2 separate regions of the Homo sapiens genome follow, and region 2 is linked to region 1. The links come from fine-mapping of genetic effects on gene expression. A gene starts in region 1. The other region holds a variant in brackets. All regions are shown on one strand. Distances are between the middles of the regions.

The links. PIP is the estimated chance that this variant, and not a neighbour inherited with it, causes the effect. A credible set is the group of variants that fine-mapping cannot tell apart.
Region 2: its variant is the best candidate, but not a certain one, in a credible set for the expression of GSTT2B in caudate (GTEx, PIP 0.81).

Annotation. Positions count from the first base shown.
Region 1 is chr22:23,958,388-23,963,758 of GRCh38, forward strand. It overlaps GSTT2B (glutathione S-transferase theta 2B), which reads right to left and starts at 2,808. Exons shown (of 5, transcript NM_001080843.4): 1 at 2,633-2,808; 2 at 1,907-1,994; 3 at 164-314; 4 at 1-71. The coding sequence starts at 2,744. RefSeq lists an enhancer at 1,029-1,694.
Region 2 is chr22:23,994,799-24,000,169 of GRCh38, forward strand. It overlaps GSTT4 (glutathione S-transferase theta 4), which reads right to left. Exons shown (of 5, transcript NM_001358664.2): 4 at 5,277-5,371; 5 at 3,603-3,941. The coding sequence ends at 3,744. Among named protein-coding and RNA genes, the nearest start is that of GSTT4, 8.0 kb to the right of the region's middle. The variant C/A (reference allele first, on the strand shown) is at 2,642.

The sequences.
Region 1 (5,371 bases):
TGGTCCATGGCAGTCCTGTTGCGTTCCACCTTCTCCTCGGGCACCTGGACCCCAATGAGTGGCCCCAACACCTGATGGGGGCAGAGAGTGGGTCAGTCTATGGCCCCGGCCTACTGCCAACTACTCCCTGATGGCCAATCACTCTCCAGATGGCTCTCCTCACCTGGACCCACAGGGGTATACCAAAGGTGCCACGGATGCAGTCGGCATGCCAGCCCAGGTACTCATGAACACGGGCACGAGCCTGCAGGTCAGATGGATACCAGTGGTCCGGCGTCTGGTACTTACAGCTCAGGTAAATCAGGATGGCCGAGCTGGGAACAAATGGGCAGTGGCTATAAGGACACTGGCACCAGGCATTTACCCCTAACTGCTCCCATCTGCCAGTGGGGCCCGGGGGCTTCTCTGCATTTGAAGGACTGCCCTCCAGCCTCGCCCTCCATCTCCAGCTCCCCAACACCACCCCCTCCTCCTACGAGTCTCCTCCTGTCTTTGTTGCCTTGGGCACCGACTCTTGGCTGGACCTTCTGCTTTGCATTTTGAGAACCTCATCTCTGTGATATGCCAGCAGCCGCCCTGTGAGGTAGACACTCCTGTTAGCCTTTTAGCACAAGAGAAAACTCAAGGTCAGAATGGTCAAGTGACTTGTCCGAGGCGGTGCAGCTCAGAATAGGCTCCCTGGACCCCTGGAACCCTGCATGGGGCTGGCACACAGTGGATGCTCCGTGGAGTCCCTTGCATGTCCACGCGCTTGGGTCAGGGATCACGAGGGGAGGAATGTCTTTGGCCCCCGTCTGACAGGCCCCCAGCCATCACTTCTGCAGCCACCTGACCTCTTGTCCTTTTCCTGCCCAGCAGCTGGACCTCACCATGAGCTGTGCCCTTGGGCCATGGCATTGGCCTCTAGGCCCGGCCTGGGTAGATTGGGTAGTCTGCAACAAGTCACTAGAGGCTCTTTTCAGCTAGCATTTGTTGAACAAATGCGCAACAGTGGAAAAATGTTCCCTTGTCTTCTCTTCTAATACCCTTCAGTCTGGGAGTGGAGAGGCCCTGCGGCTCAGAAAAGGCTGGAAGATGAGAGGTGGGGGGACATGTTCTGTCAGCCCCTGCTCATCCCGGTCACACCCCAAGCTGTACCTTCTCCCCAGATACCTCTCCTTTCTTTCTTTCCTTTTTTTTTGAGACGGAGTCTCCCTCTGTCGCCCAGGCTGGAGTGGGCTCCCTCTGTCACCCAGGCTGGAGTGCAGTGGTGCTATCTCTGCTCATTGCAAGCTCCGCCTCCTGGGTTCACGCCATTCTCCTGCCTCAGCCTCCCCAGTAGCTGGGACTACAGGCGGCCGCCACCACGCCCTGCTAATGTTTTGTATTTTTAGTAGAGACAGGGTTTCACCGTGTTACCCAGGATGGTCTCGATCTCCTGACCTCGTGATCCGCCCACCTCGGCCTCCCAAAGTGCTGGGATTACAGGCGTAAACCACCGCGCCCGGCCTTTTTGAGACGGAGTCTAGCTCTGTCGCCCAGGCTGGAGTGCAGTGGCGCGATCTCAGCACACTGCAAGCTCCGCTTCCTGGGTTCACACCATTCTCCTGCCTCAGCCTCCAGAGTAGCTGGGACTACAGACGCCCGCCACCACGCCCGGTTAATTTTTTTTCCATTTTTAGTAGAGACGGTGTTTCACGGTGTTAGCCAGGATGGTCTCGGTCTCCTGACCTCGTGATCCGCCCGCCTTGGCCTCCCGAAGTGCCGGGATGACAGGCGTGAGCCACCGCGCCCGGCCAGATCCCTCGCCTTTCCCCTCCCTCGCTGCCCCATGGGGTATGGGAGGGCCACTGGGGCCCGGGGCCAGTGGGGAGAGCCAAGGTCACATGGGCTCCGGATGCGGTGAGGGGTGAGGGAAGGAGGGCACCTTTCGGTCAAGATGAAATCACCATCCTTGAGCGTCGGCAGTTTCCCCAGGCTGTTGATCTGCAAGAACTCCTTGCTCTTGTGCTGCCCTGAAGAGGAAGAAGTCAGAAAAGGTCTTCAGAATAAAAACGCTGCACCTCTACACCCTCCCTCCTCCTCCCCAAGCGGAGCCCCACAGCCCTGAGAAACAGCAAGGTCTGGGACTAGAGGCCTGGATCAGCCTCACTCCCTGGCTGGGCCTCCCTGCCCTGCCACATTCCGGGGCAGCTGGGGGGCTTTGGTGGGTGGGGCCAGGTGCAGCAGGTGGATAAAGAGAAGTTTTCTAGCCGGACTCTGGTGGGCCAGGGGAGGGGAGGCAAACTGGGGTGGCTCATCTCTTCCCATCTCTTAATTCTCACAACAGCATGTCCTTCTTCCCAAGGTCTTCTGGGCTTTGTGAATTTATATGCGTGCATTCCACGCAAGAACTCTGTCAACTCCATTCAGTATTTTCTTTCCATCCCTACAGAGCAGAAGGTAACATTATCCTCCTTTTCAGAAGGCAAGCTAAGGTTCAGAGAGGCTGTGATCCCTCCAAGGCCACTCAGTCCACAGCATTCTCTGGTGGCAGACGCTGCAGGAGGAGGTGAGGGGGCTGTGCGGGCGGCGAGACGCTCAGGGCAGAGCAGGGCGGGGGCCTGGGGGTGCACTGGGTTTGTGGACACGCGGGGAAACGGGCTGGGCCCACCTTTGACCAAATCCACGGTGCGCAGCTCTAAGGGGATGCCATTCTTCTTGGCGAAGATGTAGACGGCGCGGCTGGGCTGGGACACCAGGTCAAGAAACAGCTCTAGGCCCATGGCGGGGGCGGCAAGGACAGCGGGGATGGCAGTGAAGGCGCTGAGCGCGGTGTGGGCAGCAGCTGTGGCAGGATCCCGGCGCGCCGGGAAATAGGGGATCAGGCCCCACCCCCTGGGGACAGCACCCAATTGGAGCGCACCACCCCCGGACCCGCCTCGCCCCTTCGGTTCCTGTCCAGTCCTGCCGGCCAAGACTCCACCACCAGATCCGTGCGTCCCTACAGGGAGGGCGGTCGCTATGAACGCACAGCTGGGAGGGTGGAGTTGGAGCTGGGGACCCTCGACTGGCAGGGAGGACGCGGATGCAGGGGGCCGACTGCAAGGGGAAGGGGAACCGGCTGGACAGGGAGAAGCAGGTCTGCTTTTCGGGATCCCGGTGCCAGGGACCCTGCCCAGTTCCAGGCGTCGCCCTGACCCAGAAACGACTGGGCGCCGCCGTCCTGGAAAGGCCCCAGCGCACGGACATCTGAGGGTTCGTTCAGAGCTCTGTTTCTCGGCGCTGCATGGTGGCGGAAGGGAGGGAGCGAATGGGATCCCCTAAAAGGGATCTTAGAGTTTCACCCAGTGGGATGTGACACTTGCAGGTGTCCCAAACTGGTGGGAACCTTGACTGGAAGGCTGGGGTTAAGGATGAACTTTCTGCCGTCCAGACTGTCCCCTGCAGAGCAGCTGCTGCCAGACAGCGGGAGCTGCCAGACAGCGGGAGCTCCCACTTCGTGCACAGGATGGGGGCAGGGAGCCCGCAGCCGCGGGAGGCAGGAATGACTGTCCGGGAACCTCCTTTCTTCTCCCTGAATCCCAGCCCTGGCATCTCACCAGGGGGCACAGTGATGGTCCAGGGCTGGGCCCGGGACTCTAGCTGAATCTTTCAGAGTATCCCATCCCTCTGGCCAGTGGCCCAAGCGAGTGAACCAGAATGCTTCCTTGGGAGTTTTGAAACTGGAACTGGAGAGAGGAGCTCCCTATGGGGAGGTAAACGGGAGCTGGGGCCACCTGTAGTGACATTTCCTGAGTTCGAGGAGTAGACGAGACTGAGAGAGAAAAGCTGACTCAGAGAAAGGGAGTGATAACAGGGCATGCTGGCCCACACCTGCAATCCCAGTTACTCTCACGGGATCTGTTTCTCTGATGTCTGGGTATGAAAGGACTTTCTAAGCCTCAGAACAGTGGGAGAACTCAACAAAGAAAAAACCAATACATATACAAGGTTACTTTGTGGAGGAAAAAATGGATTAACCTTAAGCAAAAAACTGGGAAGGATCTCGGTAAAAGATACGTCAGAAGGAAGTAATGTCCTTTAAGATGTTCTTAGAAACCCATCAGACAGGTAGGGTGTGGTGGTTCACGCCTGTAATCCCTGTACTTTGGGAGGCAGAGATGGGCGGATCAGTTGAGGTCAGGAGTTTGAGACCAGCCTGGGCAACACGGTGAAGCCCCGTCTCTACTAAAAATACAAAAATTAGCTGGGTGCGGTGGCACACTCGGGAGGCTGAGACAGGAGAATCACTTGAACCTTGGAGGCAGAGGTTTCAGTGAGCTGAGATCATACCACTGCACTCCAGCCGGGCCACTGAGCGAGACTGTCTCAAAACAAACAAACGAACAAACAAAAAGAAGAGAAACTCATCAGACGAAGACACAGGAAAAAAATGAGCGAAGGAAATCAGCAGAGGTTTCATTGAAGGACAAAGAGAAATGGTCAATACATGGATGAAAACATGTTTAACTTCAGTAATAATCAAGGAAGCACACACCAACACAACATGCACATACTGTTTTTATTTATCAAAGGCACACATATTTTTGAAATGAGTACTCCTAATTAATATGTACAGAGCACTTACCCAGTGCCCAGCACAGGGGTGGCACCCTGTGTGTGAGACAGCATGAAACAGGTAGACACGCGCCCTGCTGAAAGTAAGGGACCGCCTCTCTGGAGGATCCATCGGGCAATAAGGAGGTTTCCACACCTTAACTGTGTCTGCCTTGACCTCTGGGGCCTGGGAGCAGAGCCCCCTCCAGCTGGTGGGGAAGGAAGCGTGGTGTGTTTGAGGACAGAATGGAGAGAAGTTGAGTAGAGCAAGTGTAGACTCTTCCTATCCAAAGTGTGGTCAATGGACTGGGAGTATCAGCATCACCAGGGAGCTTGTTGGAAATGCAGAGGCTCAGGCCCCACTCTGACCTTACTGATTGGGAGCATAAACTGTAACCAGATTCCAGGGAGGATTCATACACACATTCCCGTTTGATAAGTGGGGGGTAGTAGGAGGTGAGGTGAAAAGTGGGGAGGGGATGGCTACCGCACTGGAGAAGGCTGGCTTTGTGTTGAGGCCTTTCTCATGAGGGCAGTGGGGAGCCATGGAAGGCTTTATGCAAGAGAGGGTACGGGCAGATTGAGATTACAGAAGGATCCCACTGGTTGCCTTGTGTGAGGACCCAGGGAGAAGGGGGAGGCTGTCCCTGTTTGAGTAGGAGATGAGAGCTACTGGTGGCTATGAGTGGAAAGAAGTGAGCAGAGGTGAGCAGAAATCCCAAGGACTGGTGATGATAGGATGATGGTGGGAACCAGGATGGGCTTTGGGCAGACCCTGACCCCTCTCTCTGCCTGTCGGCCCACCAGATAATAA
Region 2 (5,371 bases), 36 kb after region 1:
TTTTAGGAAGGAGAAGACAAGATATAGGTCCTGACTCTGGTTCTGCCTCTCATTCATATGCTACCCTTCCCCTTGAAGAACTTGTTTCTTCATCTACAAAATGGGCATAATACTACTACTCATCAGGGTGGTTGTGAGGATTAAACAAGGTAAGAGATGTAAAATTGCATGTTAGTTATCAGATAGATTTGTGTTCCCATCTAGCTCCAATGAGGGAGAGGATTTGCTCTAGTCTGTCCCTCTGGGCTCTGGGCTTCTAATGGGCAGACAGCTTCCTCCATGATGTTTGTAGCTGTTAAGGCTGGCGTAGTCCCTCAAGACAAGTTTTTTTTTTGTTTGTTTGTTTTTTTTTTGAGTCAGAGTATCGCTCTGTCACCAGGCTGGAGTACAGTGGTGCGATCTTGGCTCACTGCAATCTCTGCTTCCCGGATTCAAGCGATTCTCCTGCCTCAGCCTCCTGAGTAGCTGGGATTACAGGCATACGCCACCACACCCAGCTAATTTTAAGACAAGCTTTTGGAATTGAACTGCTGATGGTCTTCCATGAACAATTCAACAGAAACCCAGTAGCGTACACTTCCTTGTATGCACTTGCACCCTCTCTTTACATTTATTACACATTTAATGCTACCTAATAATTCCCTATACTTTTACTTTATCCAATCGTTCAACAGATTCCAACCGAAATACATAGAAGAGTGATATTCCAACTTCATCAGACCCTGAGATTCTATTTTTAACATTTCTTCCATGGATTGTTGAATGTTTCCAATGATTGATCCACCTTCCCTTGGCCTTTTCTACATTACAGATTTGGTGGCATGTCCATGTCTATGTTGCCAAACTTGCCTCATAGACCCAGCTTGAACACAAGATGGGTGCTTGCTGAAGAGCAGGACTCATTCTGTTGAACCTGCATGTTTTCTCAGGTCAGATTGCTTGGTGGCGCTTCTTTAATTTCTTTCAACAGCACATTGTAGTTTGCTGTGTTGAAATGTTGCTTTTCTTTGGTTAAATTTATTCTATTTTATTCTTTTTGATGGTATTATAAATGGAAGTGTGGTTTTAATTTTGTTTTTCATCCTTTATTGCAAATGTATACTATTGATTTTTGTGTATTAATCTTGTACCCTGCAACCTTGCTGAACTTATTTTATTTTATTGAGATGGAGTCTCAGTCAGTCACCCAGGCTGGAGTGCAGTGGCTTGATCTTGGCACACTGCAACCTCCACCTCCTGGGCTCTGGTGATTCTCCTGCCTTTGCCTCCTGAGTAGCTGGGACTACAGGCATGCGCCACCACGCCCGGCTAATTTTTGTATTTTTAGTAGAGACGGGGTTTCACCATATTGGACAGGCTGGTCTCAAACTTCTGACCTCATGATCTGCCCGCCTTGGCCTCCCAAAGTGCTGGGATTACAGGTGTGAGCCACCGTGCCCAGCCTTGAACTTGTTTATTAGCTCTAATGGTTTTTAAGTGAGTTAAGAATTTCTGTAATGTCATCTGTGAATAGAGATGGTTTTACTTCTTTCTTTCTGATCTAGATTCCACCTTGTTCCTTTTTCTTGCCTAATTGCCCTAATAAGTAGAAGTAGTGTGAATGAACATTCTTGTCCTGTTCCTGATCTTAGGGGGGAAACGCTTGATCTTTCACAATGGATGAAGTATGGTGTTAGTTATAGGTTTTTCATAGATGCTTTTTGTCAAGTTGAGGAAGTTCCTTTCTCGTCTTCATCTGCTGAGTAATTTTATCGTAAAAGGATGTTAGGTTTTGTCAAATGCCTTCTGTGCATTAGGATGATCATGTGACTTTCTATTAACATGGTATGCTACACTGATTGATTTTTGTATGTTGAACTGCATTTGTACTCCTGGGATAAATCCTACCTGGTCAAGGTGTATGATCCTTTTAATATGCTGCTGGATTTGATTTGCTAATATTTTGCTGAGGATTTTTACATCTATATTTATAAGGATATTGCTTTGTAACTTTATTTTCTTGTAATGTCTTTTTCTGTCTTTGGTATCAGAGTAATTCTGGCCTCATAGTATGAGTTGAAAAATATTTCTTCCTGTTTTATTTTTTTGGAAGAGTTTGTGAAGGCTTTGTGTTAGTTCTTCAAGCTTTTGGTTGAATTCACCAGGGAAGCCATCTGGTCCTGGGCTTTTCTTTGTGGAATTTTTAAAAATAATTAATATTTTAATCTCTTTATTTGTTACAGGCCTATTAAAATTTTATCTTTCTTCTTAAGTCAGTTTTGGTAGATTGTGTGTTTCTAAAATTTTCCCATTTCATCTAGGTTGTCTAAATTGTCCACATATAGTTATTCATAGTATTTCTAAACTTTTGAATTTCTCTATGACCAATGTGATGTCTCCATTTTCTTTCTTTCTGGTTTCCATTTCATTTTTTCATTTTTGTTTTTGTTTGTTTTTTGAGATAAGGTTCTTCTATGTGCCCAGGCTGGAGTGCAGTGGTGCAATCATAGCTCGGTGTAACCTTGAACTCTTGGACTCGAGTGATCCTCCCACCTCGGCCACCCAGTTAGCTAAGACTACAGGCTTGCACCACCACACCAAGCTAATTTTTTTAAAAAATATATTTTTTAGAAAAAAGTCTCATTGTGTTACCCAGGCTGTT[C/A]TCAATCTCCTGGCCTCAAGTGATCCTTCTGCCTCTGCTTTCCAAAGTGCTGGGATTGCAGGTGTGAGCCATTGCACCCAGCCTCCACTTTCTTTCTTGGTGAATAATTTGACCCTTATTTTTTTCACTTGGCTATTCTAAGTAAAGGTTTGCCAATTTTGTTGATCTTTGCAAAGATCCAATTTTTGGTTTTATTGATTTTATTGCTTTTCTATTTTCTATTTCATTTATCTCCATTCTAATCTTTATTATTTCCTGTTTTCTAGTGGTGTTGGGTTGAGTTTGCTCTTATTTTTCTAGTTCCTTAAGGTGTAAAGTTAGGTTATTGATTCAAGATCATTCTTCTTTAACTTATGTGTTTACAGCTATAAATTTTGCTCTTAGAACTGCTTCTGCTGCATCCTATAAATCTGGGCATGTTGTGTTTTCATTTTTATTTGTTCAGGATACTTTTTGATGTCCCTTGTGATTTCTTCTTTAACCCATTTGTTGTTTAAGAGTGTGCTGTTTAATTTCTATGTGCTTGTGAGTTTTCTAGTTTTCCTTCTGTTCTTGATTTTTAACTTTATTCCACTGTGTCCAGAGAACATACTTTGTGTGATTTCAATCATCTTAAATTTGAGACTTAGGACCAAATATATGCTCTATACTGGAGAATATTCCATGTGCTCTTTAGAAGAATGCTTATTCTGCTCCTGTCGGGTGGAACGTTCTGTTCATGTCTAGTGTATGCGATTGGTTAATCGTGCTTTTCAAATTCCCTATTTCCTTGATGGTCTTCTGTAGTTTTTCTATTACTGAAAGTGGGGTATTGAAGTCACCAACTATTATTACTCACAATGTAACCATATTTAACCCTTTACTTTTAAAATTCTTTTTGGAAACTGGAAGGATCTGTAACCACCACCCACTCCCACATCAGACCCTATGCATATGCCAACTGTCTGCTGCTCAGCAGCTGTGATGGTTGTTCCAGTTCTTTATTAGGCAAAGAACAGTTGTTTTTTTGTTTTTTTGTTTTTTTTTTTTTAACATTTCCTTTAAGGAAGGTGGCTCAGATTGCTAAGCCAGCCAGGCCCTGCGGGACAGGCTGCGCCTAGGGTCACCTGCTCTTCTTCAGCAACTCAGAAATATTCTCCTTGACCATTGAATCCAATGTTGAAAAGTCCCAGTCGGCCAACTGCATTAGTCGATCATGGGCCTCCCTAAAGAGGCCAGAGCCAATATTCAGCTCCACCTGCATACGCCACTCAGCTAGCTTGGAGCTGTTGAGGAAGACATTATAGTTGGCTGCCATGGGCTGTAGATAGACGAAGACAAAGACGTGGTCAGCCTGGGGACCAGCCCCACCTGGGTCCTCTCCCACAGCCTCAGGCCCACGTCCCTAACATCTACCTATGCAAAGAATTAGGCTGCTGACCCCCAAGGCCTGAGCAAGGGGTCACAGACTATGTAATAGATGTAGGTGGGGATGGAGGATCCAGAATCCCTCAGAGTCCTCAGTCACTGGTCTTCTTGCTCCAAGCCTTCTGAACCATGCTGAGAGGGCTCCTGGCCCAGGCACTTCCCACTTCTCCAGCCTGCGACCTCGCATGAATCCTGCCTTCTTCCAGGGAGACCCCTTATCCCAGGTGTGTATATGTGGATGAGGGAGAGAACTCAGGTTTTTTCCTCCATGTTTAGCCTCCCACTGTGATCAAGCTCAGGGGCTAGGATGGGAGACCTGGCGGGCAGTCTACCCTGCAGTTTCGCTGGCTTACTAAGAGTTTGGTTTGCACCCAAGATCTTTGGGAAGCCCAAGAATGGGTGTGTGTGGGTGAAATGTAAGGGGTGGGGACGAAGCATATGGCTGAACCCTTGGGGCAGGCCAGAATGATTTTTCCTGGTGCTGGTCTGCCCTGCAAACAGACCAAGGAGACTAATTTTCATATCAGCCAGAGATCTCTGGGATAAGGAAAAGAATACTGCATTTTCTGGTCAATCCACCAGGACCCCAGGTCCCTCCTCTCGGGCATATCTCTGGCTGATATGCAAATTAGTCTCTTTGGTCAGTGTGCAGTGCCCTAGCTGGTGTGCAGGATGGCCAGTTGAGACCCTGGCCAGTGTCTTGACAAGCAGAACTGGTCACCCTCCCCTGCATGTAGAGGCCACATAAATGCCCCACACTCAGGTGTGCCTCCAAATGCACAGTGGATGCCCCTCAGACCCAGCCACGAGAGCTGTCCTCCAGAGCTGTCTGTCTGGAGCTCTGGGAAACAGGCAGGGCCAGAAGGACACCCAGGAAGCCAGTGAACATTTCCTGGAGAGTCCAGCAAGAGGAGGAGGTATCTGGGATGCCGGTGGATTGAGCAGGAAATGCAGTGTTCTTCTCTATCCCAGGCTCACCCTCCGGGTCCTCCCACACCGAAGAATCTTTGTCAAGTGTGGAGAACTGTGATCCTTCCTGATTCATAACATTCTGTGCTTCCTGTTGCCCCGATTGAGTCCAGGCCCCCAGGCCTGGTTCCCGCAGCCCCCATGGCAGCTCTGCCTGCCTTTCCCGCCTCACCAGCCTATCCTCAAGTGATGGCCCCATTGGTCACAGAGGAGTCCTACCTCTGCCCAGGGTCTAACCCTCCTCCAATCCACTCCACACCTGCATCATCTCCACCACGGCCACCAGGTCAGCCAGTGAGATTTGGTTCCCGGTGATGAACATCTTATCCTGCAGAAAATACTCCTCAAAGAGCT